Regions from separate parts of the Homo sapiens genome. Here regions 1 and 3 are each linked to region 2. Evidence: fine-mapped expression QTL. A gene starts in region 2. Each other region holds a variant in brackets. All regions are shown on one strand. Distances are between the middles of the regions.

The links.
Region 1: its variant is fine-mapped to the expression of PON2 in whole blood (TOPMed, PIP above 0.99).
Region 3: its variant is fine-mapped to the expression of PON2 in unexposed skin (GTEx, PIP 0.95).

What each region holds. Positions count from the first base shown.
Region 1 is chr7:95,407,706-95,415,891 of GRCh38, forward strand. It overlaps PON2 (paraoxonase 2), which reads right to left. Exons shown (of 9, transcript NM_000305.3): 4 at 4,607-4,772; 5 at 3,948-4,074; 6 at 2,196-2,396. The region is part of intron 1 of LOC107986822 (a long non-coding RNA gene); the gene reads left to right. Among named protein-coding and RNA genes, the nearest start is that of PON3, 15 kb to the left of the region's middle. The variant CT/C (reference allele first, on the strand shown) is at 4,687.
Region 2 is chr7:95,431,801-95,439,986 of GRCh38, forward strand. PON2 (paraoxonase 2) reads right to left here and starts at 3,228. Exons shown (of 9, transcript NM_000305.3): 1 at 3,078-3,228. The coding sequence starts at 3,151. RefSeq lists a silencer at 2,911-3,340 and an enhancer at 3,015-3,585.
Region 3 is chr7:95,392,498-95,400,683 of GRCh38, forward strand. PON3 (paraoxonase 3) reads right to left here and starts at 3,878. Exons shown (of 9, transcript NM_000940.3): 1 at 3,780-3,878; 2 at 2,147-2,217. The coding sequence starts at 3,853. It overlaps LOC107986822 (a long non-coding RNA gene), which reads left to right and starts at 3,975. Exons shown (of 2, transcript XR_007060439.1): 1 at 3,975-4,531. The variant T/C (reference allele first, on the strand shown) is at 3,935.

The sequences.
Region 1 (8,186 bases), 24 kb before region 2:
CAGCCTCTCTCCTTGAAAGTTTATAGTGTGTTGGAACAAATCTCACTGGTTTGTACACATTAAACACCTAATAAGCATGAGAAATAGTTCAGGTCTAGAAATAGCTAACTTCCGAGGACACAGAAAGGCTCACCAAGGAAGGGGCATCTGCAGTGGCTGTGTAAAGAGAGATGAGATTTGAGATGAGGACGGAGGAGGCACTTCCCAGGCAGAAGCAAGCACAAGAGCAGAATCACAGGAGCAAGAAGAGGAAGGAATGTTTAAAACAATGAGTTCTTTGTCTAAAGCATAGAAAGCATGGAAATAGTAGAAAAGGGAGGTTGGAGGTGGCCTGTTAAACAAAGTCCAACCCTTTACCCTGCCTTGATTTGATAAGCAATTGGATTCCACTGAAATCTTAGAATAATAAAGTGGCAACAAATGGTCAGTTCTGTTCCACAATTCCTGAGCATTTGCTTTGTGCCTGGCACTGTACTGGCATAAGGAGTCAAAGGTGAGGAAGACAGAGTTCCCTCTTTGGGGAGCCCTTCAAGGCTAATAGAGATAGACAGACAAAATTGGCAAGAGTGAAAAAAATCCAAGTAGACAGAAAACAAATTGGAAGAAAGTCTCATATGCTAGTCAGAGAGGATGACAACCTAAATTAGGCAGGTCTCACTCAAAGGGAAAGGAGTTTGGGGGTAGAGGAAGGAGGCACAGGTAGAACCAACAGGACCTGCCTACAGGCTGGATAGGAATGGTGAAAGAGGAGTAAAAGCTGATTCTCCCTTTTCATTATTGTTATTTTTTTGTTAGCTTGGGTGATTGGAAAGTTTGACTCTCATAATGGAAATATAAGAGTGAAAAACAGATTTGGCTGCAGAGGTTGGATCAGGTCAGTTAGAGACAATTTAAATTAAATGATTCTACATTCTTTTTCTATAGTCAACAAGAAAGGAGGAGAAATTGGATTACAAAAATAAGGGCATTTAGTTGTCAAGGAGTGCCAAATTTATTTTATGTTGTATTTGTAGTAGTTTAAATTTTTCAGTGTGCTGAGGCAGTAGATAAGAAAGCTATCAAGAATTTAATATCTTCTCTTATAGGTTGTGGTTGTGCATATAAAAATAATGAGATAATTCTGGAGGACAATTTGGCAATATCTATTAAAGTTAACATTTAAAAGAATCACACTGTTTGAGCAAATAGTTCTATTTCTAGGGGTCTGTTCTACAGAAAAGTAGCTCATAGAACCATTTAGCCAGTGCCCTGGGTGGGATTTGAACCCAGGCCTGTATGAGTCCAAAATCTGCAAGTTTAACCATTATGTTATAATACTCTCTTAGAGCCAGGTGTGGTGGCATATGCCTGTAATCCCAGCACTTCGGGAGGCTGAGGTGGGCGGATCACCTGAGGTTGGAGGTTCAAGACTAGCCTGACCAACATGGAGAAACCTCATCTCTACTAAAAATACAAAATTAGCCAAGCATGGTGGCGCATGCCTATAATCCCAGCTACTTGGGAGGCTGAGGCAGGAGAATCACTTGAACCCAGGAGGCGGAGGTTGAGGTGAGCTGAGATCATGCCATTGCACTCCAGCCTGGGCGACGGAGTGAGACTCCATCTCCAAAAAACAAAACAAAAAAAAAACACTCTCCTAGGGACTTTTTCTTTAAAAAAAATACTTGTTTAAAATTCCATGGTAAATAAGAAGTATAAAATATTTTTTATGTAGAACTCCCCACCCCTATACACATATCCATCAATAGAGAATTGGTTAAATTAGTTTAAGATCATCCTTATAATGGAATAATGTATAGCCAATAAAAATAATACATTTATTTAAAAGGAAATACCTGATACTTCAATATGTATGCATCAGTATGATCACACTTTAAAATTTATATTTATAAAATTAAATTTGACAATGATGTATTCCAAACTTTATATATTATATATAAATACATATATATTACTGTATTATATAGTTTACTTAAATATGGTATTGTATTTGCATATAAATACATGTGACTAAGTATATGTAAATATATATACAAAACATATATAATTATATATATAGTGTATCTATATATTATATGTATAATATACCATAAATGTCAAGAAAACTATTTTCACATTGACAAAGAAAGCAAAGTAAAGAATTTGGCCAGCACCACAACTGAAGAAAAATGAAGATATTCTATAAGGGGCCATACTTATCATCAGGTGAAATATTGATCCCATTTGCTGAATCAAATCCTTCTGCTACCACTTTAACTTCATTTGGACTGTAGTAAACAACATTTGCCCAGTGTAAGTTCAAGTATGTTTCTAAATACTTTAAGAAAGGATCAGAGAAGTAGTGGTCATTTGTGGCATAGAAATGTGCCGGTCCAACAGCTGTGATGTCATTCACACTGAAAAAGAAAAATAGCATGTGAGAGGAAACAAAAGGCCTGTTGGTCTCCATATTAAATATTAAGTACTCATAAGATTTATGCAACATGTGCTTTAAATTTTTGGTAAGAGGAAAAGACGAGCTAAAAATCACGACTATAGTCATATACAATATACTATAATATTGTTGCCAGAGAACAATTTTGTATGGTACCAGGTAATCTGAACACAGGTCATTTAGCAATTATGGCAGGATTACCATAAGAGAAGAAAGAACTTAGTGCCATCAGGGCATGTTTTTTGACAGCAAGAAATGTAGGGTTTAACAATTATACGTAAGGACAGAGCTGTCCACAGTACAGAGCTGGAGAGAGCCTGATTGGCTGGTGAGCTGGTTAGGCAGTCAGTAACATTTACCTAGCTTCCATTTACTCAGTTCCTGGATTTTTCTAATTTCCCTGGCTTAGTTATTAGTCAAACTAAGGTTGACTGTTCAATTTCTACCTGCTTCACAAAGCTGACATGCCGAGAATGAACAGGCACTCAATAAACACTTGCAGAGAGATGGATGATAAAATTGCCATAGTACAATGCTTCAGGTGAGAGATTTATATGCTAAAAACAATTTCATTTTAAGACCAGTTAGGTGAGGGTGTTATTAAATTTAAATTCCAATTACTCTATGCAAAAATTTCTGAAAGAGCTGCTTTATTCTTTGCTAAATGAAAAATATAGAGCTACAGGGAAGGTAGGTCTCATTTTTCTGAAAGAGCACCATAATGCTTGGATGGTATTTATGCTCCTATTTTTTTTTATCAAGTGCATTTTTGGAAGGAATGATTGGAAGTTACATGCTTATGCCCTAGATAGGCATAGATAGGCCCTAGATAGGCAATATTTTTAATTTCATTAGAAATGAAATTTCATTAGAAATTAAAAATATTCATCAAGTTTAAACTAAAAGAAGCAGTAGGCTAATACACACTGAACTGGGGGTGGGGGTACACATGATTCTCTCTTAGCCACATTTTCAACCAGCTTTATGTTCTTGAAGTGTAATGACTCACTCTCAACTTGAGTGGCTCTAATTCTGTGGGATTACTAGCATGCAACCATCACTAACCCTATGAAAGCGATTGGTATAAAGTCCCATGCAAAGCATACAAACCCAATAAAAAACAGGCCATTCTTCCTTGGCAAGACACTCATCTGGGTGATGAGTCATCTAAGATGGAGGGTGACAGCAGGAAAAAATGTTAGGGTTTGCCTTCTACCCTCAAGATGGGCCTGAAGAGTATCACCCTGTAGTCGGGCACTTCATCATTTCTCAAAGGAGTCCGCATAGAACAGTGAATAGTATGAGTGACATCAACTTTCATATGCCATGCTTGCCCTGGTTTATAAGGAAACTATACACACACATTTATAAATAAGGAAATATAAGCTCTTTAGCTCTTACATATTAGCTAATATATACATTAGCGCTTATAAAAGATGACAGGACAACCCACCATAGGGATTGTTTGCAAATGCTGGGGATAAATTAGAGAAGGAACAAAATGAGGAAGTACCTTGGAAGAAGCTCATGTTTGACTGTTTTCAGATGCAACAGAGAATTTTCTGCTTCTTCAAATTTAAAAATTTCCACTGTATTCTTGAATTCTGGGTGGTTTACAACAAAGAGATAAACTGTGTCATCTAAAGAATTGAAAGAACAGAGTTAATTTACAAGACATAACTACGGGACCTCTGGGCAGGCACTGACATTTAAATACCACAGGCAAGGAAAGGTTGAATGTATAAGCTGTTAGACGACCTAACAGATCATTCTCTGTCTTTCCTATTGCTGTCCGTCTGGTGTTATTTCTGATCATTGGCTCCCTGACCTTTAAGAAAGTGTTTCCTACTCCATATACAGAATTCATGCATAATCTGTTTCTACTTTAATTCAAAAATACAGTTCTTTTTTAAATGTGATGATCGTAGGTATATGAAAAGATTATGAAATCTAAACATTCTTTCAGGTGTTACCTGTTAGGAATTTCAAAATGTAGCATAACTTACTGCCAGCTGAAGAGGCAAATGAACAAGTTCTTTGTAATGAAGAATACAGAAATCACTCATGAGTTAATTGTTCTTCTCTTCCTAGAAATATGATCCAAATCTATTTTTCACAGTCATTTGTGAACCATCACACGTTACTAAATGTTGGTAGCCCATTGGCTCTTACCGTTGTCTATGAAAGTGCTGATGCCATGTGGATTGAATGAGGCCAAATCAAACCCACGACTGATTCTTAATTCCCGTGCC[CT/C]TGGTTTTTCTTCTTTTAGATCCATCATTAGTATTCCTCCAGGCTTATCTGGTGCAAAGCTGTGGAGTCCTGGGAATTTTAGACCCTTTCCAAAACGGTGAAAAATGTTAAATACAAAAGCTTAAGTATTTTTATGGACTAACATGGGAACTGTACATGAAGGATAAATAGAGATTGTGGTTAAAGTAGTGGCATAAAGCCACAAAAACTCAAAAAACAGAGAAAAGATAACAGAAAAAATAATAACGGGGAGGTGGAATACTGAAAGCCTGAAAATAACTGAAAAGAAGATCAGGGATTTATTCTCTTCAGAGAGTAATCAGAAGGTTGGTGGACTAGGTGATTCCAGGGAGAGCTGAGGGTGGAGAAAAGTGACATCTACATACTGACTGTGGAAATTTGTTCACTGCTAGATCCCAGTGCCTGGAACAGTGCCTGGCATACAGTCCATCCTTCTCCCACTGATTCAAAATATCACCTTTATCATGTGCTAGATCTCTGACATTTACATATTGGTCTATTTAGGGACTCTCTGTTTTGTTATTTTAATGTCTCATGTCTATTCCTGTGCCAATATAACACTTTTTAAATTACTACAGCTTTAGGTCAGGCCTGGTGGCTCATGCCTATAATTCCAGCACTTTGGGAGGCTGACGTGGGAGGACTGCTTGAGGCCAGCAGTTTGAGACCAGCCTGGGCAACATAGCAAGACTCTGTCTCTACAAAAAAAAAAAAAAAAAAAAAAAAAAAAATTAGCTGAGTGTTATGGTGAGCACTTGTAGTCCTAGCTGCTCGGAAGGCTGAGGTGGAAGGACCTCTTGAGCGCAGGAGTTTAGGAGTTCAGGCTGCAGTGAGCTATGATTGCACTACTGCACATCAGCCTGGGCAATTGAGCCAGTCCCTGCTTCTCTAATGACAGTTTTGTCTTTTTCTTTTCTATCTCACATTTCTTTTTCTCGTTTTACTGAATTACTAAGAACTCTAGTAGATTACTGATGGTTGTGGTGTTGGGTATTTTCTTCCTGTTCTGAGCATTAATGCAAATGCAGCCAATGCTTCACCATCAAGAATGATGTTTGCTGTAGTTTTGTGGGAATTTTCCTTATCTTTCTAGTTTGCTTGGAACTTTAGGAATGAGTATTGAATTTTATTAAATGCTTTTTGGTACTCACTGAGATGATATAGGTCTTTTCTCTTTTAAATCAGTTAATAAATTACCTATCAGTCTATCTAAAATGGTGATTCATCATTACATTCTTAAGGTAAAGCCTTCTTGGTGATGTTAAATTTTATGTGAATGCACTACCTAATTCAGTTTACTAATACGATGCAGTCATATTTACACAAATTTAGGCACACAATAAAAAAGTCTTACTTTATGTATAAAATTGGACATAAGAGGAAATCTCTCCAATTAAAAAAGATTATCTACAATTGTATATTTTCATGGAGGGCAAGCCTGGTAAGTAGAACAAACTGGAATTATGCTATTGTTACATGGCAGTGCCACTTCAGTTAATCCCTATTCTTTATGAATGTCCCCAAAACAAAAGCATGATTTACATGCAAAGGAAGCACTATCAGATGGTGATAACTAGTCATGGTTATGTTCGCACTCCTTATTTATTTAAGTATTTTTTCTCTTTTTAAAAATTTATTTTTAATTATGATAAAATACATACAACATTCATCACTTTCACCATTTTTAAGTGTACAGTTCAGTGGTGTTAAGCACACTCACATTGTTTACATTTTTTATATTTTATTCTATGTCATCCAATTCTTCATGAAGTGTGACATTAGTTTTGAGGTGACCCTCAACCCATAACTGTAAAATAGGTTGGGTTAGATGAGCTAAAATGCTAGGAAGAAGAATGAACAACCTCCACAATGTAGGACCTCTTTATTTAGAAGAGAGTACACTCTAGGTTTTATTAGAGACAATGCCAAGTAAATGAAAAACAGCAGCAAACTGGGAATGTTTCTAAATTTTAAAAAAAGTCAAATGAGCAAAGGAGGGTAACAGAAAAAAAGCAGAAAAAGTTCTATTGATATGGCTATAAGATCTTTGTAACTATAACATGCCCCCAAGCTAAAATGGCTGTAGATTTATGTGTTTGGAGACCTCATCCCTCCTACTTCAGATTTATTACTATGGGGGCTGGAGAGAAATCTTGAAATAGGTGAATTCTAGATTATAAAAATCTCCAAGAACACATCCTTGCAAAACAACAACAAAAAACACAAATAAACAAATAAAAAAATCAATGCAACTGCCTTCTACTTTATTCAGAATGTTTGCATCTTTACTTATGAATATTTTAGACTAGTGGTCCCAGTGGTTTTTCCTAAGCCACACATGTGCAAGCATGTGCTCCTAAACAAACCCAGAGTCCTACTATAAATATCACTTTATTCATTCTGTGTAGGCAATTAAATAAAACATTCCTTTTAAAACCTTATTTTAAAAACTAAATACATATACTGGTGTTTCTGCTAAAGCCCACAGTATCTCTTTATTGCCTCAGTGGTAATAACCAGCTGCTCACTGTCTTTCACATAAAAACCATCAGGAACCTGAAGAGTGTTCTAATTCTCATTCTACTCCAACCTGAGTTCTCTCACCTTTCTCATAAGTCTAACAACTATTTTATTAGTGTGGTGACTCCCTTCTAAGTATCTCCCAGTATTTCACATCCCTCTTGAGTCTCAGAGCCTGAAAATAATGGATGTTGAGAGGAAATGGAATAATTACAGTCAGGTGTCAGAGTTGGTTACTTCTTCCTCCAGAAAAACTGGACCTATGAAGATGCCAAGAACTCCTATGTCTGCCCAAGCCAGGGAGGTAGGTGGTCAGAACCTCCTCATCTGTCCCCTTATCTGGATTTCCAATTAGAATGGACATTGTTACAAGCTAGTTTCAACAATATTCACAACAATATTCACAAGCCAATTGTTTTTAAAGTCTTTCTATTGTATACCCAGAAAGGATATTGTTTTTCAGCTTACAAGAATCAAGGCAAAATGAAGGGTGTAAATAAACTCAATGACTTTCCACTTATGATTGGCTATTCAGGGGAAAAAAGAAAGAAAGCAAAAGGGCAAGGTTGGTATAATATTTGAAAATAAATAATAATGGCAAGAATATTTGCTTCAAGTTGAATAGTAATAGAAAGATGAGTAGATGCTGTATTTAAAATAGTATAATGTTAGTATTGAGTATCCACAGTAAGACCTCAAATATCCCTCTTAATAGTGCACATTTAAAACACAGATTGCGCTGGGCGTGGTGGCTCACTCCCGTAATGCCAGCACTTTGGGAGGCTGAGGCAGGCGATCACCTGAGGTCAGGTGTTTGAGACCAGCCTGGCCAACACGGCGAAACCCCATCTCTACTAAAAATACAAAAATTAGCCGGGCATGGTGGCGGGCGCCTGTAATCCCAGCTACTCGGGAGGCTGAGGCAAAAGAATTGCTTGAACCCGGGAGGCGGAGGTTG
Region 2 (8,186 bases):
TACCCAGTGATATTTTAATTTGAGATAAACAATGAATGATATTTTAGTATAATTATGTCCCAAATTCCACGCTTAATGCTAAAAGTATGGTATAAGTATTTCATGCTTATACTAAAAAAAAAAAAAAAAATCCATGTGAAATTCAAAGTTAACTGGGTAGCCTACATTTTTCTTTGCTAAATCCAGCCACCCACCACCTACCCCAACATTCTCACGTCAGCCCATTTGGGGCTCCACATATCCAATAAAGTTACCATTTTATAAAGTCACTGCCCATTAAAGTGCATCACAGTCACGTAAAGAAAAGGTGCATCAAATTGTAAAGTAGGCCGAGGGTGGTGGCTCATGTGTATAATCCTACCACTTTGGGAGGCTGAGGCAGGAGCATCACTTGAGGCTGGGAGTTTGAGATTAGCCTGGGCAACAAAGTGAGACCCTGTCTCTGCAAGAAATAAAAATACTAGCTGGGCATGGTAGCATGCATCTGTAGTCCCAGCTACTCAGGAGGCTGAGGAGGGAGGACTGCTTGTGCCTAGGTGTTTGAGATTGCAGTGAGCTTTGATGTACCACTGTACTCTGGCTTGGGCGGCAGAGCAAGACCTTGTGTCAAAATAAAAAACAAAGAAAAACAAAAAACAAACAAACAAAAACCTGTAAATAAACTATCAGGCATTCTGTCAATAAGTTTTATTTACTTTTTCTTTTTTTTTTAGATTTGCAGCTATAACTTTAAAACCTTAAGATTAGTGAGAAGGGGGAATATTTGACTGTTGAGAAAACTTCCAACTTGCAGAAAAACTGGTGGCTTACACATTAGTGACAACATAATAAGCTTGTGAATTTTGGTGGTCTTGCCTTTGAAATGGAGAGCAGGACAGATCATATACAAAGTCATCCAACTCATGAATGTTCTGTAGAGCACAATGGGCATTACCTAACATGAAAATTAAGGTCAACATGTCCATTTCCTACCCATAAGCGTTCTTTCCTCAAATCTCACTCCCATCTCAGCCACCACACGCTTCCTCTTTGCACTGCTTTATCAGTAGATGAAACTACAACCATGGGACAGTGGAGCTGTGGCACAAACTCTGGTAGCACCTTTGACTTCTCCCTCATCCCTGGGGTTCCAGAGTTTGGGTCCCTGTTATCCTCTCTGACCTACTGCAATACCTTAACCAGTTACCCCATGTCTGCTCTCTATTCTAGTAGTTCTCGACCTTGACTGCTCATTAGAATTATCAGGAATGTTTTTAAAAATAAAAAATGCCACTGCTACTGTCAGCCACTGTTCTTACATTATGCACTTCCTTATTTATCTATTTACCTGGGAACCCTGAAGCCAGCTTGCCAAACAATACATTATTCCATATCACATTTTAATTATAACGAAAAATCTCTGGTAGGTAGACACCATAGTTTATAAATTACCAACTCAAATTTTGTTTTTTATTTATTTATTTATTTATTTATTCATTTTGTAGAGGTGGGATCTTGCTATGTTGCCCAGGCCTGTCACTAACTCCTGGGCTCAAGCAATCTTCTGGCTTAGGCCTCCAACAGTGCTGGGATTACAGGTGTGAGCTGTAGATTCTGATCCAGAACAGCTGAATCAGAATCTTTGGTGGTGCCACTCAGACACCAGCCCTCCAGGAGATTCTAATGTACAGAGAACCATTGCTCTCCTCCAATCCCCCCTTCCAGGCTTATCTCTATAAAACACAACTAGTTATATTAAGTTCTTGTTGAAAAGCAAAACCCACCAATATTTCCCTTTTGAAGCACTATTGGGCCTATGAAAGTGGGGCCCCATTTTTCAACTTATATTTAATGGCCTCAAAACCTATCCTTCCCACCACCCTACTATTCTCATCTCCTGACTTTATGCTCCCTTCAAATTGGCCCATTTGCTAGTCTTCCAACTTCCCACCTTAGCCCCTTTGCTCCTGCTGCACTATACATTTGGCATGGGCCCCTTCATGCTCATATGTGTTGCACCCACCCTTCAAGGTCAGGTCGAATGTCTCTTCCTCCCTCTAGAACTCCACCCTCAGGGGATGGAATCTTTCCTCTTTAAGCCTATGCGGTTCATTTGTGTCTGTCCTTAGAACATCCTAATTTATACATTTACTGTATTTTAATTCTCTCTTCCCCTGTATCAAACTCCATAAGGGTCGTACTCTACTATAGAAGCCTAAGAGAGAACATTACACATAGCAGGTGCTCAGTCTTTCTGGAACTCTTTTGCATGAGGCCTATAAAATTTTGGTTGAGGCAGGGCAGAACAGCTCACACCTGTAATCCCAGCACTGTGGGGAGGCCTAGGCTGGAGGATTGCTTGAGTGCAAGAGTTAGGGAACAGCCTGGGCAATACAGCAAGACCCCATCTCTACAAAAAATAAAATAAACAAAAAACAAACGTTGAGTTGGTAATTTATAAACGATGATGTCTACCTACCAGAGATTTTCATTAAAACTAAAATGCGAGATGGAATAGTGTCTGCGCTGTCTGGCATTCTGGCTTCAGGCTTCCCTGGTGAATAAATAGGAAGTAAGAACAGTAGCTGAATATTTCAAGTGTCTTTGATCTACAGCTGAAGAGTTTCTCAAACTATGCAGAAATGGGTGGAGAACAACTTTATTAAAGACGGGTCTGGTTTGGGCAACAAGGAGAAACAGCACCAATGACCTGAAATAAATCTTCATAGTTAAGGTTTCAATGCATGAGTAGTCATTTTGTTTTCAATTTAAACCACTAGTTTGGCCCTTGGGTAATTGCAAAGCATTCTCTTGTCAGCCTAAGCAGAAGAGAACTTTGTTAGCAGCAAGGGCTTATAAACTTTCAAGAAAGTGTCGCGATTCACTCCAAACTTTGCTAGTTTTTTCACTAGAAGCGGAGAGTCGGGGTGATGGGGGTTCAACTAGCTGGGGGAGGGACAGCATTCAAAAATTCTCCACCCCCGGCCGCAGGGCCAGGTCCCGCAGGAATCCCTCCCCCAGCCTGCGCCCTCCCCGCACCACGCGGCCACCCCGAGCCTGGGGACCGCCGAGGAGGGGCGCGCGGGAGTCCCACCTACCTGAGTGCCAGAAGCCTCTCGCCCAGGAGCGCCAGCGCGATCCCCAGCAAGCCCACAGCCACCAGCCGCCCCATGGCGCGGGAGCCGGGCGCGCTGCCTCGCTCCGGCCTGGCCAGCAGCTCCGTGGGCGGTGCCATCTTCCCGGCTCGATGGTGCCGGCCGCGCTCCGCCCCGTCCTCCGCCTAGGCCGAGTCCCTGCGTCGGGGCCGCGGAGGCTCCGCCCTGGGCCTGGCCCTGGTCTTTGTCCTCACAAACCTATTTCCCCAGATACCTTCGGGACGGCCCGGACACGCCTTACATTAGGCTCATGATGTGAAACTTTGAATTCCTTCACTTCCTTTTTCAAACAACCCACCCGAAACCCTCTAGCAGCCCGCATACCTTTCTCGTTTCCCTAGTCTTCAAACACATTTCTCACTCGCTATTCCAGTGAGAAACTTACATAGAAAGCAGCTTTTGGGGATGGGGGTCGGTGGCCAAGGGAGGGAAAGTAACGGGATGCGTCGTGTAAATATTTCACGTTGGAATCACTACTTTTTATAACAGGACGTAGTTGCGAATAAATAAACATCCTGTGCCTCGTAATACTTTTTTTTTTTTTTTTTAACAGGGTCTCGCTGTGTTGCCTAGGCTGGAGTACATTGGCACAATCATAGCTCACTGCAGTCTGGACCTCCCGGACTCAAGGGACCCTCCAGCCTCAGCCTCCTGAGTAGCTGGGACCGCAGGCACGTACCGTTACACCTAGCTAAGTGTGTGTAAGTTGTGTGTGTGTCTGTGTGTGTGTGTGTGGAGACCGAGTCTTGCTGTGTTGCCCAGGTTGGTCTCAAACTCCTGGACTCAAGCCATCCTCCTGCCTCAGCCTCCCAAAGTGCTAGAATTACAGGAATGAGCCACCATGCCCAGCCTCTATTAATACTTCCAGACTACAGACTTAAGGACTTAGACACGTCTTTTTCATCCAAACTCAAAGGGAAGAAGTGTAGTTTTTTTCTTTTCCGTTTTTACTCTAACAACCGTAACATGAAGGAATAATTTAAAATACAATTTTAAAAGTAAAATGAAATTTACCCATCAAGATTGATACCATTACAATAAATGAGTACATCTGAAATAAGCTTCTAATGGTTTTCGGTATTTAATTGCCACCCTACAATATGTAGGCAGAAATGGTCACACTTGACAATTTTCAACAAATATCAGTTTTATAAAGAACCAGTAAATAAAAGTGGATGCCAATTTCCCACCTGCCTCTCACCAAAAAAAAAAAAAAAAAAAAAAAGCACAAACACCTCTCTCCCTGTGTGTGTGTGTATCTCTGCTTCAGTCCTAAGGATATTGGATTATACTGGATGGTAGAAAGAGAAGTAAAAAGTTGTCCTTTGAAAGCCCATGAGGCATTACCTTTTTTGTGTCGTGGACCCTTCTGGCAGTGGTGAGCCTGTGGATAACTTCTTAGAATAATGTTTATAAATGCTTACAATAAAATGCATAAATTTTCTCTGTGCGGTTCATGAAAAAAAGAAAGAAGAAAAAAAAATTTTAAATAAATGAATAAAATGTATAGATTGCAAAGAAAATCAATTACATTGTAAGGAAAAAAAATAGCTGAGAGCAGTCTGAGCTTTGTGAGGTATGCAAAATTTATCAGGCCCAGAGCGACATGAGTATGGGACTTCAGTCACGCCCCAATACCCATGCCTGGGGACAGTTGTTTAAAGACATTTTGTTCCCGAGTAGCTGTCCCACCCATTATCTTCATATTCCTGGAATTTATGATACAAAGAACAAAGTATAACCAATCCACAGCTTATGTTATTTTAACGCAAGGAATTTAGGAACTGCCTCTTCCTTCCCCTTAAAAATCTATGTGTAACTGCTGCTAATCAGAGTGTATATTTAGGGAAACTTGAATCTATACTCCTGGGTTGCAGTACTCAAACTTGGCCCAAATAAACTCTCTACTTACATTAATTTTGCCTTAGCTTTAAAATTAAAGGTCAACAATTGAAATGTAATTGTTAAAATATCTAAAACATAATTTTTTGCTATAGTAATGTGGTAATGTAATGTGTGCAACATTATTTAACATATTAAATAACAAGATCTAGCAACATTCTTTTAAATAAAGAGGAGTGCAAATGTTCTTTCATGATACTGAAAACAACTATAATGAAATAATGAAAATAACTGTTATTTCCATTAGTAACAGTCACAAGTACTGCAAATGCTTCTGAGGTTTGTCTGCTAGTTTTGTAATTGAAGAAAATGCTAAATTCCATTTGAAATCAAGATTTTTTTTTTCTTATCCAAGGTCATTAATTCCTCTGAACTATCAATGGACCACTGGGTTAAGAACTCTGACATAGGCTAAGGCTATGACTGTTTAGAGAAGGGTGGAATCTCCTTTCTAGGACTATTTTTGGTGTCAATTATTGAGGAAGAGAAGAGCCTCAGATACAAAATCAGAATTTAGGCCTGGCAAGGTAGCTCTTGCCTATAATCTCAGCACTTTGAAAGGCCCAGGTGGGAGGATCACTTGAAGCGGGGAGTTCAAGACCATTGTGGGCAACATAGGGAGAACCCATCTCTACAAAAAAAAAATTAAAATTAACAAAAAAAAAAAATTAAAGAATCAGAATTTAGAAGAAAGACCTAAAGCAGAGGGCCTTGGACTATTGTCTGGGCTTCTCTCTTAATCTCTTAGGCCCCAAGGGAAGTACATACAACTATGCCTCATGGATTCTGGGTCAGGAGCCAGGCTACCGTGTCTTTCCACAAGTTCCGCAAAATGAGGAAACCACATAGATGGCAAATAAGAATATCCAAGTATATGCTATTCTCTGTCTATTTCCCTTTTGCTATTCCCAATTTTTTAAAAAGAAAAAAGTCATGTTCTTAATAGTCATGTTCTTCAACCTGGTTCCAGGTGACATTAAAGGGTTGGAGGTCTACATCTTTTAGGCTAGTCTCAGGATAGCAAAAACAACAACAACAACCAAAACCAGCTTTTGTGCTGACTTTCCTTTCTTCCCTGGCCCATGGTAGGCGTCACTAATTGATTTTGGCAAAGTGTCTCATCACACCCAGACTTGTCCTCACAATTTTTTAAAACAACAACGAAAGGGAAATAAGAATCCCTGAGCTAGGGAACAGATTTCAGTTCAGGATGAAACCTGTTTGCCATCTTGGTGCTGGGTGGTCAGGAGGAACAACACCTTGGGATTTAGCATGGAAGCATTTGTGATAATGAGCCAGGACTTTCAAGTCCACCAAAACCTACCTAAGCTCACCCTCAGAGAATCAAGAGAAATGGAAACCTTATTTTAACTTTATTAACATGACCAGTGAGTTCCCCCAATAATCTGTGTGAGGAATCTTCTACCCCCATATTCTTTCTCTTTCTGAATGTTGCGGTTGAAGCAACTTTTGCAGAAGTAGTATCCATCTTTACCCCCAGCCCCACCACCATGCTAGGGCTGGAATTGTCATTCCTCACATGGGGATGGAGATGAGACGTATTTTCTAATTTGGAAATCAGAAACCATTGTAAGAATGTTATAGTGGTTGTTACATTGTATAGTATAGTTTAGCTGTCTTTTGAGATAACTAGGATGTATAGGCCACACCAAGAACATAACCCCTGGTTTACGTTTGTTTCCTGGGGAAAGTGGTTTCTGACTACCAAATAACCAAGTTACTCAATACAAAACAAACTTGTTCTGGAACTTGCTTGTGTGCTGGCAACTCCTTATACTTGGTATGAAACAGTATTTCTCAAATAATGACTTCTGACTTATTTAGTGGTTATTAAGTGGTTTTTTAAGCAAAATTTCAGAAATAATAATACCTTTTATCAGTGCTTCTCAAACTATGTGCAGTGAAGGACAGGTTTTTCTTGGCCTTTGTAAAATGCAATGAAAATGACTTACTGGAAGAGGAAGTAAAAAAACCAGACATACAAAATACAAGCCCAAATCTTTTATTATTTGGTTCAACAGACATAAAATTACTTTGTCAAATTTCTGTAACAGTTTCTAAATGCTTACTTTCAATTTTTTATACTTAACTAGCCATGGACCAGAAACAAAGAGTTCACAGACTGAAATGGTCCCTGGAGCACACTGCCTTTCATAATTGTACTTTTAACTCTTTAAAGTTCTTTGCAGTGTATTCTTAATTGTAACGCTCACAGTAATTTGTGAAATAGGTGACTCGTGATTATTGTAATTTTATATAATATGTGACAGGGAGTTCGGCCCTCCATATTCCTTTTATCCCTTCTTCTCCTTACTTCTGTTTTAAAAAGGGAACAAAAATGCATTGAAGGGATGCTATCAAAGATGGTTATTATCAGCAAAAGAAAGATTTGCCTTGTAGATGCCTCACTCCGTGGCTTCTCAAAGAGTAAAGGAAACCTCCCCACAGCCAGGCCGTTTTCTGAGAATTCCAACATATTAAAAAGTGAAGAAATGGCATAACAGAAACATAAAGTTTTTTTTTAATATTTATGTTCAACAAATTAACATCTTCAAATAATAGGTTGAATGATATTAACTTGTTTGTAGAGGTCAAATTCATAAACAGAGATAAAATACAATGTAATGTGCTAGTTACAAAATAATTATGCAATTCATAAAAAATATTTATTCCTGGTTTGCTATAGGAAGAGTGGTCCAGTCATGGAACTCAAGTTTAAAATGAATGAGTTTTTTCAGTTGTGTCACTGTATCTTTGTGATGTATGAATAAATGAATTGTGAGATAATGTTGAAAGTCAACATTTAGGGCTCTTTGTAAACTTCACGTCTAGGCCAGTTGGCTTGCCTGTCCCCATGAGACCCAAGCCTATTTATTTGGAGAGCTATAGGCTTTGCTGCCTCTCTTCCAGGAGCCATTGAACCCTGGGGAAGAGGACAGAGAGGAAGAAAACACTGGGAGAAAAGAGGGGAGCAGGAAGAGAAAGATACAAAAACTCCCCAACCTCCATGTGAGGCTGACTTTGGATGGGCTGAACTCTATGGAAAAAGTAAAGACATGTTACATCCTCTTCTAGGAAATGCATGCACGTTTTCCATTGTCCAAAGCAGCATTGTTTGTAGTTCTCCAT
Region 3 (8,186 bases), 39 kb before region 2:
TATGAATACTACTACACCACAAAACAGTAAACAAATGAGTAAATGTCACATTTCCTTATTTTTAAAATCAAATTAAATCACTCTGATATCCTATTCCACTAAGTTGATGGAAAATCCAATCTGAGTCATTACTGGGTTTGTCTGTTAGGGTTATGAAATCATTTTAAGTGGTGGGTTCTAAACCTAAGCAGAATGTTTTGGAAAGGCCATCTGGCATTCATTCTACACTACGTATCATCGAATTATTCATTGCCAAAGTTACTGGTCCCTTTAATTTAGACAATTCTGCTACTTCCATGTAATGCATTGACACAAGGTCTTTACCTTAGCTGGAACACAGGGTCCAGCGTCCCTAAAGATACCTTGCAACCATTCCTTCTGAGGTCCTGCTCCTCTCCCAGAATGCTGTCAGCCAGTGGGGTAAGGATCCCCATTATTCAAAGATATCCACATATTCATATCCCTTCTCCAACAGAATCCCTTGAAGGGGCTCAGGTTTTTAAAAACAATTCAGGAAAGGCGTTTTCTTTGGTTTCTTCTGCTTTCCAGCTGCTAGCACAAACCACCTCTAAGACTAGGGAGTGCAAGGTTCAGATTACTTTATTTTTTAGAAATTGAGAGGCAAGAAAAGGCAGAAAACTCAAATCAAAAGGGTACTTTTTCTGTATTTTTAAATATAGCAATAAAATAGAAAATCATATCCCAAAATAAGCTATCTCATCACATTCTAATAAATAAGTCACAGTTCTTGGCCCTAGGGAGTTTACAATCTGATAGTGAAAGAGAGAACACTGCTAGCTATAATACAAGGCATGTGGCAGGTGTCATAAGTGAATCGGAGCTTCAGAGTGCTGTGAGAGTTCAGAGGAAGGAGATGAATTTTGCAGCTGATTTTAGTAAGCAGAGACAGAGGAATCAGTAAGTTTGGAGGGAATTTCATAAGCAAAGGTGAGAAGGTGAAAGAACATATTCCCAGAACAGGGAACACAATCTAGCCTGATTTTATTTTATTTTTCTGTTAGCAATGTCAGGAAGAATTGGAGCTGTGGAGCCCAAATAAGCAGGTGTGGCATTAACTAGTAGGTGAGATTAGCCCATGTCTCACGTAGAAGCATGAGGGACAAGCGGGGAACAATGGTTCCTGGATTTTGAACTGAATCTTTTGAGAATGGGGGTACCATACATAGGAAAAGTCTAGAAGCAGAGCTGGTTGTGGGTGGGAGGATGAGGGAGAAAACGACAGAAATGTAAAATAGATTTCAGCTTAGGGAGAGTTTGAGCTGGAGCTGCCCTTTAACTGACTAAAAAAGAAGGGCTGCAGTTTGAAAGGTTAGGGACTGGGCCATGGATTTTTTATGAATTTTTTTAAAAGAAGGTAGGTAGGCTGTGAGGTTCCTTCGTTTATTATTTTTTTTAAGACAAAGTCTCGCTCTGTCGCCAGGCTGGAGTACAGTGGCGCGATCTCAGCTCACTGCAACCTCCGATGACTCCCTGGTTCAAGTGATTCTCCTGCCTCAGCCTTCCGAGTAGCTGGGATTACAGGCACACGCCGCCAACATGCCCGGCTAATTGTTATATTTTTAGTAGAGATGGGGTTTCACCATGTTGGCCAGGATGGTCTCGATCTCCTGACCTCATGATCCGCCCCCCTCGGCCTCCCAAGTGCTGGGATTACAGGTGTGAGCCACTGCGCCCAGCCTGCTGTGAGGTTCTTGAGGGGAGGGGCTGAGTCATATTATTTGAAAAAAAATAACACTTGAAGCCAGGAATGACAATAAGGAAAGGGAGGGAGGAAGGAAAGAAGAAAGAAGCAAAAAAAGGAAAGGTAACAGAGGACAAGGAGGAGAGTGAAATACCACAGATGGGAAAGGAGAAGCATTCAGTGAGGGGAAAACCAGGGAGTGGTCAATGACATTCTTTAGGTAATGTGGAGAGATGTCAGTAAGGAAATGTGCTGAGAAAAACCCACAAAGAATGTCATTTAGTACACCCCTGAAGACCTTGCATGGGGCAGAGTGGACGGGGCAGATGTCCCACTGGGAGGGCTTAAGTAGTGACAGGTAATTAAATGAGCTGGTAGGGCTCAGTCAGGTGGATGACGACCAAGAAGCTGTGCTGGCTCCTCTTGGTACTGTCACATACATACCAAGTTCCTCAATAAGGTGGCAGTTTTCAGGTTCTACTGGCTCCACTTCTCGAGAGGCATTCACCCTTTCTCTGTAGAAGATAAAACCCAACCCTGGAAGTCAAGGCACAGCATTCAAAATGTATGTTTAAATGTGGACTTCAATCATCTTCGTGTTGGTTAACTATCTTTATCATAATTTATGAATGACATAACAAGTAAGTAGGTACTTCCTTTCATGTTTATTTACATAATGTAGACATTATGTGGGTATTTTACCTATATCAGCTAACCTTACCCAGTTATTGCTGAAAAACTGTATAATATGATTCAACATGGAAAATTCTGCTGCCCAAATAAAAGACACTATTTAATAGTATGAGTAATTGAACAATATTATTAATTTAAATGCACGAAATAGCCCTAATTTTCTAAAGTATCGTCTGTTATAAATCTGCACTTAATCCCCTACAGTCTTGCCCTTTGAACTTTTCCTTCCAAACTGCTTTCCCAAAATTCAACAGGGTCTCCTAATAGTCAAACTCTATCACTTTTGCTTTAATTTTTAAATTTTATGCTGACTTACTCCGCAAGTATGTAAATTCATTAAACCAACCACAATTTAAACAATTGGCCGATTTATTTTTCAACACAATTTTCTTGTTTCCAGAGTGAAAAGGAATGTTTCCACATTCTTCTAATATCAGGGATAATTTAAAATTTTTATTAAAGTATATTCAGAAAGACTCAATACTTATCTTACAGTCATTTATTTAAAAAAATACCCTTAGATCTACTTTATTATTATTACTATTATTTTATGATTCTCCATGTGGTTGCACTGGGAGCAAATGTAACAATAAAACTCTCAAACTGGAAGTATTACTAATAGGCACCAGGCACCTCAACAGATTCTAGACGTGATCCTCTAAGAAGACCAGCTTCAACTAAGAGAAATACATAAACACTCAAAGACAACTGAAAGCAAGCAGAGGCTTTCGATCCACTCATGAATGTGTATTATCACTTAAAGGTTCTTCTTTCTAGCCCAGTATTGACTTTTCCTGAGACATTTCTAGGCTGGCTATCACCATTGTATCTTCCACTTCAAAAGGTCAAATGCCTACAAAATGCCAGTTACCGCCTGCAGGTTTCAGCTGGTTTGCCCTGCTGTCTGGCCAGCTCTTTAAATCTAGGATAGGTTCCATAACCCAGTACTTCTGCATGGTTAGCCAGACCTGGGCAATGTCTCAGTCAGCCGTAAACATCCAACTGGTAGCCTGATCCTCTCTCCCAAGTCCGGCGTTTCCAATGGACGTCCTTTTTTCCCAAGCAGAATGTTGAGGGCGAGCTGGGAAAGGGGTCATCACGTTCAGAAAGTAAAAGGGGGTCATGACCTTCAGAAAGCAAAGTGGGGGATCATAACCTTCAAAAAATAAATGGGACTAATTCGGCTCGGCAGTCTTTGGAAACGCAAGTAGCTCACTTTCCCCATAAGCGAGTCTCAAGGGGCGGTTTGCTGGGTGAGATGGAGGAGTGAGGTTCCAAAGCTGCTCTTTCCTACCCGCTAGGAAGGGGGCGCCAGGCAGCCCCTGACCTCACTTGGAAGAGGAGAGAAAGAGAGTCGAAGACGCCCTGTCAAGATGCCACTCACCTAAACGCCAGGAACATCTCCCCGACTAAGGACAGGCCGACCCCCAGCAGGACCAGCGCCACGAGCTTCCCCATGGTCTCGGGGTGCCCAGCGGCGACTGCGCGGCGCCGAGAGCTCTCGGGGGCGCGGCGGGCGGTTCCTGCCTCGCGTACGGA[T/C]TGGGGCCCGCTCGGCCCCGCCCGCACACGCCTCCTACTTACCTGAGCGGCCCGGGTGCCGCAGCAGGGCGCTGACGAGTCCCGCCGAGCCCCGCCGCCCGGGTTCAAGGCCGCCTTCACGCCCACGATTCCTTGTTTTTTGGGCAGAGGTCAAGGCTCAACGGAGAGGGAGCCCGGGACCGAGTTGTGGTGGGAGTTTGCTCCTAACACCCGCGAAATCCTACCTCAATTCCTCAGATGGCCTGAGGGAGAAACCGGAGGGCCCGGGAATGGCGGGGAGCTCCAGTTCAGAGCCGGAACTCCGGACTTCTGCAAGGCCAGACGTGAGGCGACACTGAATTGCTCCCGAGACGCGGGAAGGGCGAAGGCAATCGAAGCGAAGAGCTTTAACTCATCTTCTCCAGGATTTGGGGCACGGGAACCTGTCTCCTGACCTTCGTGCCTTACCTCGGAGTGTGCTGCCCAGACGGACTTGTGAATAGCTGCGTCTGTCCCCATAGTTAACGGGAGAAGGAAACACCAGGAGAAAAGAAGGAAAAGACAGGAAACGGGAAGAGGAGCAGAGGCGAGGAAGGGGAAGGTCATTTCCTTGGCAGGGTAGGCCCTCTTTCTTCTAGGTCTTGAGTTCCTGCCAGGCAAGAAATGCTCTTTCCCCTCTCCTGATGAACACCAGGTTGGAGGGGGAGGAACTGAAGATGCGGGAAGACTTGGGGAGTTCGGGCAAAGTAGCACATTCAAGCATGATCTATTTTTATTTACGGACAGAAAGAAATATTAGTTCTGTTAGGTTCCACCGAGTAAACTATTTGTTGAGAGAGCAAGATTTGCCAATCCTGGGGGTATTAAGGAAAGAAAAGGTGGTCCCTGACCTATGGGATACATGATTCTAGTATGAATACGTAATTACAGGATGAATAATGAAGCCCACCGCTTATGCAGTACTGACTGTGTGCTTTGCCTGTGCTGACACCTATGTTAACGCATTTAATTATCAACACAATCTCTGGAGTGTGGGTAGCCTTACCCCAATTTTACAGGTGAGACCTGCAGCACAGATTGCTTATGTGGCTTGCTGTAGGTCAGGCAGCTGTCAAGCAGCAGACTCCAAAATCTGGGCCCTTAACTGAGCTGCCTCTACCATGCTGCCTCTAGAAAATCTATGGAAGAAGGGTTGTATTAAAAGGACAGTGTAACGTCTTGAATTGTATAGATTAGAGTTCTTGTTAAGATGACTAATGTTAAAAGAGTGCAAGCAGAGGAGGAATCGAAGTCAGGAGGGCTCACAGAGCTGAGGGGCCTGGGGTGTGATGTAGACATGCATGCAGGGTTTGGGAGTCAGGCTGCCTGGGTTTGGATCCAGCCTAGATAAAGTACTCAGCTTTATTGAGCTACAGATTCCTCTTCTGTAAAAGAACGTCCACCTCATAGGTAGCTTAAAATTAAATGTGATAATGAGTGTCAAGTGCTCTGCACTGTGCTTGATACGTTTTATGAAGTCAGTAAAGATTAACCACTAATTAATTCTGAACTTTGCTTGAGATTGTAGGCTCCTGTGGGAAGGACTCCATCGCATTGATCACTGGGTTTTCCCGTGCCATCCATAGAACTTTGTGCTTAATAATGACTCAATAAATATGATTAGATGGATGGATGTAAAATATGGACTTGGGAGAAAGAAAAATTAGAAGAATAAAAAATAAATGGAATGAATAATGAAATAATAATAGTCATATTATTATTTCACTCAGCGTTTGCATGCCTTGTCACATTACTTCTTATTAACCTTACCTACAAAGAAGTAAAGTGAATTGCTTGCTGCAAGTTTGATGGGACTAAAAAGAAGGAAAGTGAGGCTTTGAGGCTTAGAGAGGTAAAGTAATAATTCACTTAAGGTTACATAACTAAGTGTCAGTGCCTCCATCTGGACTCAGATCAGGTGACTCTAGAGCTCATGTTCCTTATCACTGTGTTTGCAGCATAGCATGAAGAAGGGGGTAAAGAAAGAAGCGTATTCTTGGGCAATTGATTGAAGTTCTGTGTTAGCTATAATTTGTTTAAAAATTCTTCACTTTAGGCAGAGGAGTCTCTGTGTGTGTGTGTGCATGTGTGTGTGTGTGTGTGTGTGTGTGTGTATACATTAACTTTAAACCCTAGAAGTGGTTAGTTTTTATTCGAATACCATAATCAGTAATTCAAATCCCCAGCATGGTAAATTAGCATTAAAGAATTCCAAACTTTGGAGGCCACTGTATCGAGTGTCACCATCTAAATCTGCTCTTGGCAATAGGCCAAATTGACTTGGTCAAGAGGCCACAGGTACATCAGTATTGTAAAAGGGGTTTGTTGACTTTGAAAGAGCAGGACAGATAAATTCAAAAGGCCTAAATTCAAGATCCAATTCCATTTGTAGTTGGCCCTTTAATCTTTTGAAATCACTTATCACCACCTCTGGACCCTTCTTTCCTTATATGTATAGTGGGGCTTTCAAAGAGCTAATGTAGACCAAATTCAATGCTATACGTTTAAACAGTAAGTAACACAATACTATATATAGATCTAGGGAGTCCCACACCATTGATAATCAAAATGCCATTAAGGGGGATGCAGAATATACATGTGGTATAATTCTAAGGTATAAAATTAGGGGAATTACATATTATCCACATATGTGTGTGTGTGTGTGTGTGTGTGTGTATATATATATATATATATAAACAATCTAGACATAAACTGAAGAGTAGTTACTTTGAGAGCAGAAGATTGGGGTCGTGGAGAGTGGGGAGGTCAGTGAGTATGGAAGGAGACTTTGCTTTTACTGTACGACCCTCTGTAATGTTTAAAATTTTCAAACTTTATATCTTGATCATGTTTACAATCGCTACATTTTTAATTTAAAAAGATTGTTTCTATCAGTGAATCTTGCCAAGAAAAAGAGGTGGCGATAGAGAAAAAGAGCAACAAATCAAAAGAGATTATGATTATATTGCAATAAAGCTGTTTTTTAAAAAGAGGATATGGATTTTAGAACATTAGGAAACATTGTCCTAAGCCATAGAAACCACTGTTTAAAACCTGGGTACGACTACATGGCATTAATGAGTCTAGTGCTGCTCAGAAGAGAGAAATGCTAGAGGACCAGATATTTGTATTATTTTAAGAAATGACTTCTATTATTTAGAAAATTTATTATTTTAAATTTATACTTATTTAAGTATTAAATATTTAGGTATATCTGAATTTAAATAAAATTCTCAATTTCATTCTGAAGATGCACTTAATAATGAAGTCAGGTAGTGAAAGTCTGATACCTTGTTTGGTGACTTCCTGCAACTCACCATGGGGAAGGTTCCCCCACTCAGGACTTCAGGTGCAACCTGTGGTGTGCTAGGAATCATCTGCGCTGAGTGTATTTAGCAGGATGAGCACCAGGGTTCCAGCAGGCTCACATTTCACTATGTAAGCACCAAGTGAATGGGGGGATCCTTGAGGGGCCACACTTTGCCAGGAAGGTTCTTTCCAGATTTATCTTCCACTTTAACTGTCTTCAGGGGATTTTTCATCAATATCTGGTAGCCCCTCAGCGACTCTAGTTTGGAACACATCTCAAGGTAGATTCAACATATTACATGAACTTGTCAGATTGTATGACAAGGAGAAGGAGTTAATTAAGTGGAGAAAGGGTGGTGAGGTTCACAGAAAGAGGTCGGGGTATCCGCAAGTAGGGGAATTGGAACAGAAATAGTCCAGTATGGATACAGCAGTGGTTCTCAAACTTCAGCAGGCCTAAGAATCACCTGGAGGGCTCCTTAAAAGAGAGATTGCTGAGTCCTAGACCCAGAGTTTGAGATTTGTTAGATTTGGGGTGGGGCTTGAGAATTTGCATCTCTAACAAGTTTGCAGGTGATGCTGATGCTGCTGGCCCAGGGACCATGCTTTGAGAATCACTGAGCTTAAAGATTTGGGAAGAAGATGGTGAGAATTGAATCTGGAGAGGAAGGCAGATTGTAGGCCAAGTTAAGAAACCTGAATTATATTCTAAGGGGCATTGGGAAGCCACTGGAAGTAACATGTTTTGGCAGGTGTTTTAGAAACATTGCTACACAATGATGAGAGTGGATTATGGAGCAGGTGGAGCACTTACCCTTCCTGGAGGCTAGGAGATAGTTAGATGCCTTTCTGGGTGAGATATGTGAGGGTGATTGGAGAAGGTGAGGAGATTGTTTCTCAAAGTTCTTAGAATTGTATGGATTTG